Regions from separate parts of the Homo sapiens genome. Here region 2 is linked to region 1. The links come from fine-mapping of genetic effects on gene expression. A gene starts in region 1. The other region holds a variant in brackets. All regions are shown on one strand. Distances are between the middles of the regions.

Evidence for each region.
Region 2: its variant is fine-mapped to the expression of ZNF786 in whole blood (INTERVAL, PIP above 0.99).

The regions. Positions count from the first base shown.
Region 1 is chr7:149,089,163-149,092,069 of GRCh38, reverse strand. It overlaps ZNF786 (zinc finger protein 786), which reads left to right and starts at 1,352. Exons shown (of 4, transcript NM_152411.4): 1 at 1,352-1,447. The coding sequence starts at 1,430. RefSeq lists silencers at 501-990, 1,111-1,410.
Region 2 is chr7:149,134,404-149,137,310 of GRCh38, reverse strand. It overlaps a transcript of ZNF398 not described here. Among named protein-coding and RNA genes, the nearest start is that of ZNF425, 9.5 kb to the right of the region's middle. The variant G/A (reference allele first, on the strand shown) is at 1,751.

The sequences.
Region 1 (2,907 bases):
ACCTCGTCTCTACTAAAAATACAAAAATTAGCCGGGCGTGGTGGCAAATGCCTGTAATCCCAGCTACTCGGGAGGCTGAGGCAGGAGAATTGCTTGAATCCAGGAGACAGAGGTTGCAGTGAGCCGAGATTGCGCCACAGCACTCCAGCCTGGGTGACAAGAGTGAGACTTTGTCTCCAAAAAAAAAAAATTGTACTGTATAACAGTTGTAAAAATAAAAAACGTTAAACAGTAAGGTGCATGTACATTTCACGATTCTGTGGCAAACACAGATGCGTATATGCTCCTCAGCCTACGCAGGGACTATTTTATTTCTTATGCACATCCTCTCCAAACTACACACTTTTCCTTTGCTACTTCAGCCTGACACCTAAGACATGACTAAGACAGAATGCGAGGTTGATTTTCTGGAGACAATCGCCACCCCCTTCCTCGCCCTCTCTCCTTTCTGTCTCTTCCTGGTTTCCCCACCTCTCCCCTGTTCTTGCGTTCTCGTGTTTCTCACGCCCTGTGTCATGGCCTCCTCCGTCTTCTCCTCCTACTCTGTCTCTGTCTCCTGCCGGGGCCCGGGGTGCCCGACCGCAGCCTTGGGCCACCCTGAGTCCCTGCAGGCGGCCCTGAGGCCGGGGTGGCTTCCGCATGGGGTCTCTGCCCAAGGCCGTTCTCTGCTAAGGAAGGAGCGTGGCCGCCCGGGGAGCCCGGAGGGCTCTAGACCCACGGCGACCGGACCTGGTGGGCGGACCCCGCCTCCGCGTCCCCGGCGGGACAAGCATGGGGCCCCCACGGCCTCCGCGCCCCCGGCGGGACGGATGCCCCGGGCCACCGCGGGCAGCGCGCGCCCCCCACCCACTTTCCGGCCTCGCTGGATTCCCGGGACCCCCTCACAGACGAAGCCTGTCTCGGGGGCGGCTTTGGGAGGAACCGCACCGGAGGTTCCCCTCTCGCTGCCTCTCAGTCTGGGTTTCTGTGGAGCGCGTCTCCCTGTCCCTGTCCCTGATCTCTCCCTGTCCCTGTCCCTGATCTCTCCATGTCCTGCCCCTCCGTTTCCCCTCCGGCCAGCTCCTCAGCTTGTCTCTGACCGCTTCCCTCCCCAGATCCCGGGAATCCGAGGGTCCCTCAAAGACCGGCGTGCTGCGGCCTGCTCTGAGGGCGCCCGGGCCCCTGGGTCCCTCCTCTGAGGACCGACGCTCAGGCAGCGCCGCTTCTTCCTCCCGCAGGAGGCGCTGTAGGACTGAGCGGCAGCCGCGGCCGGGCGCCGGGTCCCAGCATGCACCGCGCCCGGCCGGCGCTGCGTTTGGGGGCCACCCGGGCTGTGCGTGGGAGTCGGGTTGGGGCGGAGCGGAGGGGAGTCAGTGCGCAGCAGGGCAGGTTCCTGCGGAGCCGCCGGAGACGGTCGGGTTTGCCAGGGCCGGGCGGGACCGCGGGGACCATGGCGGAGCCGCCTCGGGTAAGCGGGCTAGCCTGTTTGGACGCCCGGTTTCGGGGTCGTGGTGGGTCCTCGGGTTCCGGGCTCGCCCGTGTCCTGGGGTCCCCGTGAGTGCGCGCGGTGCACGGGTAGGACGGAGTCTGCAGGCTGCTTCTGCTGGGGATGTGGATTCCGGGCCCTGCGGTGAGCAGGTGGCCTCCGCTCCCGCGGCTTGTCCGTGGCCAAACCCCTGGACAAAGCCGAGCGTGGACCGAGGCCGACCTAGGAGCGGGGCGGAGCCTGGGCGAGGATGCCGGGCGGACGGGGAGCGGACGGTGGAAAGGATAGAAAGGTTTGGGGCCAGAGGTGGATGTTACAGGTCAACCAGTTTTACATCATAGTCACCGAAATCAGAACAACTGTTCCAAAAAGTTTAAGATTCCGAATGGTTGAAATGGTGTTTGGCGGGGGCTTCAATGTCAGAATTTATTGTCTAGCGTGATTTGGGTTGAGTGTAAGATGATACGTTGGGAAGAGTAGAAGAGGATACAAAAAATTAAGTTAGTGGTTTCTTAAAATCGAGGTTTAGAGGGTATTTTTATCTTGTAAACTTTAATGTTGAGGATTTTTGCTGATTATTAAATGAATTAGGCCGGGCGCGGTGGCTCACGCCTGTAATCCCAGCACTTTGGGAGGCCGAGGCGGGTGGATCACGTGAGGTCGGGAGTTCGAGACCAGCCTGGCCAACATGGTGAAACCCCAACTCTACTAAAAATACAAAAAATTAGCCTGGCATGATGGCGGGCGCCTGTAATCCCAGCTACTCGGGAGGCTCAGGCAGGAGAATTGTTTGAACCCGGGAGACGGAGGTTGCAGTGAGCCGAGACTGCACCATTGCACTCCAGCCTGGGCAACAAGAGCGAAACTCCGTCTCCAAAAATATATACATACCTATATATATGGGGAAAGGATATAAACAGCCAAATCACAGACCTGAAAATAAATTATTAATGAGTAAAAGAATGGATTTTAAAACTTGTGACATTCAGGCCAGGCGCCGTGGTTTACGCCTGTAATCCCAGCACTTTGAGAGGCCGAGGTGGGCAGATCACTTGACGTCAGGAGTTCAAGACCAGCCTGGCCAACATGGCGAAAAACTGTCTCTACTAAAAAATACGAAAATTAGCTGAGTGTGGTGGCGGACGCCTGTAATCCCAGCTCCTCGGGAGGCTGAGGTAGGGAGAATTGCTTGAACTCGGGAGGTGGAGGTTGCAGCGAACTGAGATGGCGCCACTGCACTCCAGCCTGGGCGACAGAGCGAGACTCTATCTCAAAAACAAACAAACTTGTGACATTCAGACGGTGGAACACTATACAAAATTAAAATAAATTAGCTACATATATGATCAACAGGGCCGGGCGTGGTGGCTCACGCCTCTAATCCCAGCACTTTGGGAGGCCAAGGCGGGCGGATCACGAGATCAGGAGATCGAGACCATCCT
Region 2 (2,907 bases), 45 kb before region 1:
ACACTCCTCCAAAGCTACAGTAATCATGAGCATGTCATATTGGGGAAGGGATAGACACATGGATCAATAAAACAAGAATCTAAAAATAAACCCACACAAATTTGGACGACTGACTTTTTACAGAGGTGTAAGAGCAATTCAATGGGCCGGGCATGGTGGCTCACACCTGTAATCCCAGCACTTTGGGAGGCTGAGGTGGGAGGATCACCTGAGGTCAGGAGTTCAAGACCAGCTTGGCTAACATGGTGAAACCCCGTCTCTGCTAAAAATACAAAAATTAGCCAGGCATGCTGGTGGGTGCCTGTAATCCCAGCTACTTGGGAGGCTGAGGCAAGAGAATCACTTGAACCCAGAAAGTGAAGGTTGTGGTGAGCCCAGACCATGCCATTGCACTCCATCCTGGGCCACAAGAGCAAAACTCGGTCTCAAAAAAAAAAAAAAAAGGCCCAGCGCGGTGGCTCACGCCTGTAATCGCAGCATTTTGGGAGGCCAAGGCAGGTGGATCACGAGGTCAGGAGATCGAGACCAGCCTGGCCAACACAGTGAAATCCTGTCTCTACTAAAAATATTAAAAAATTAGCTGGGTGTGGTGGCGGGCGCCTGTAATCCCAGCTACATGGGAGGCTGAGACAGGAGAATCCCTTGAACCCAGGAGGCAGAGGTTGCAGTAAGCCTAGATCATGCCACTGCACTCCAACCTGGGTGACAGTGTAAGACTCCATCTCAAAAAAGAAAAAAAAAGCACTTAAATGAAGATAGAAAAAGTTTTTCAACAAATTGTGTCTCAACTATTGGACTTTCATATGCAAAAAAATGAACCTGAACCCAACTCTTACACTTTTTACACAAAGTAAATAAAAACAGATAACAGATATAAATTTAAACTGGGAAGTGAGGAGCACCTCTGCCCGGCCGCCAACCCGTCTGGGAAGTGAGGCGCACCTCTGCCTGGCAGCTGCACTGTCTAAAAAGTGAGGAGTGCCTCTGCTCGGCCGCCCCACAGTCTGGGAAGTGAGGAGCGCCTCTGCCTGGCCGCTCTGCAACCCTCTAAGTGTGAGGTGGCAGCCTTGAGTGTGATTTTTACGCCCTCCCCAAGTTTGCATTTTTGACATTAAATTTTACTTTTAAATTAAAAGCTTTAAATAGGGGAATATAAATAAACATATAAATAAATAAATAAATAAATTTAAAACATAAAACTAGGAAATTTCTAGAACAAAACCAAATATTTATGACCTTGAATTAGGCAGAGTTCTTACACATGATACCAAAACCCCAATCCACAAAAAGCAACAAAGTACAAATTGGACTTAATCAAAATTAAAGCTTTATTATTATTATTATTGTTATTAGTTTTTGGAGACGTAGTCTCCGTCTCCCAGGCTGGAGTGCAATGGCATGATCTTGGCTCACTGCAACGTCCGCCTCCTGGGGTCAAGTGATTCTCATGCTCAGCCTCTTGAGTAGCTGGGACTACAGGCGCGCACCACCATGCCCAGCTAATTTTTGAATTTTTAGTGGAGACTGGGATTCACCATGTTGGCCAGGCTGATCTTCAACTATTGCTTACCTCAAGTGATCTGTCTGCTTCAGCCTCCCAAAGTGCTGGGATTACAGGTGTGAGCTACCGCACCCGGACTATTATTATTATTCTAATAGTTTTTGGGGAACAGGTAGTGTTTAGCGACATGGATAAGTTCTCCAGGTGTGATATCTGGGATTTGGTGCATCCATCACTCAAGCAGTGTAC[G/A]CAGCAGCATCCAGTGTGTAGTCTTCTATCCCTCACCCCTGCTCCCAGTCTTCCCAAGTCCCCATAGTCCACTATATCATTCTTATGACTTTGCGTCCTCATAGCTTAGCTCCCACTTAAAATTAAAGCTTTCTTTTTTTCTTTCTTTCTTTTTTTTTTTTTTTTTTTTTTGAGACAGAGTCTTGCTCTGTCACCCAGGCTGGAGTGCAGTGGCGCGATCTCGGCACACTGCAAGCTCCACCTCCCAGGTTCATGCCATTCTCCTGCCTCAGCCTACTAAGTAGCTGGGACTACGGGCACCTGCCACGACGCCCGGCTATTTTTTTGGTATTTTTAGTAGAGACGGGGTTTCACCGTGTTGGCCAGGATAAAATATTTACTAATCATATATCCAACAAAGGACTTACATTCAGAATAAATTAAGAACTGTCAAAACTGAATAAGAAAATAAACCACTTTCAAATGCCTGCCTTCTTCAACTAGGCTTTGTTAATGTGGTTATTGCAATCAGCATTATCTCTAACAGTCTTTAACATAATAAATGAGGTCAGGTGGTAATCCCAGCATTTTGGGAGGCCGAGCTGGGCAGGTCACCTGAGCCCAGGGATTCCAGACCAGCCTGGCCAACATGATGAAACCCCTTCTCTACTAAAAATACAAAAATTAGCTGGGCGTGGTGGTGTGTGCCTGTAGTCCCAGCTGCTTGGGAGGCTGAGGCATGAGAATTGCTTGAACCAGGGAGGCAGAGGTTGCGGTGAGCCAAGATTGCGCCACTGCATTCCCGCCTGGGCGACAGAGCCAGACTCTGTCCAAAAACATAAAAATAAAAGTGCTGAAGGAAAAAAAACAGCCTGGGCAACAGAGTGAGACTCCATCTCTAAACAAATAATAAATGATTAGGTGTTACTCTTTTACCTATTATCTAATGTCTAGTTAATATATCTTTAAAAGTACTCAGAGTTGAAAAAATAAACTTTAAGTTGTACAGAGAGATCATTAAGAATATAATGGATGGGATGCTGTGGCTCACATCTGTAGTCCCCAAACTTTGAAAGGCTGAGGTGGGAGCATCTTGAGCCCAGAGGGTGGAGGCTGCAGTGAGCTATTATCACACCACTGCACTCCAGCCTGGGCAACAGAATGAGATCTCATATCAA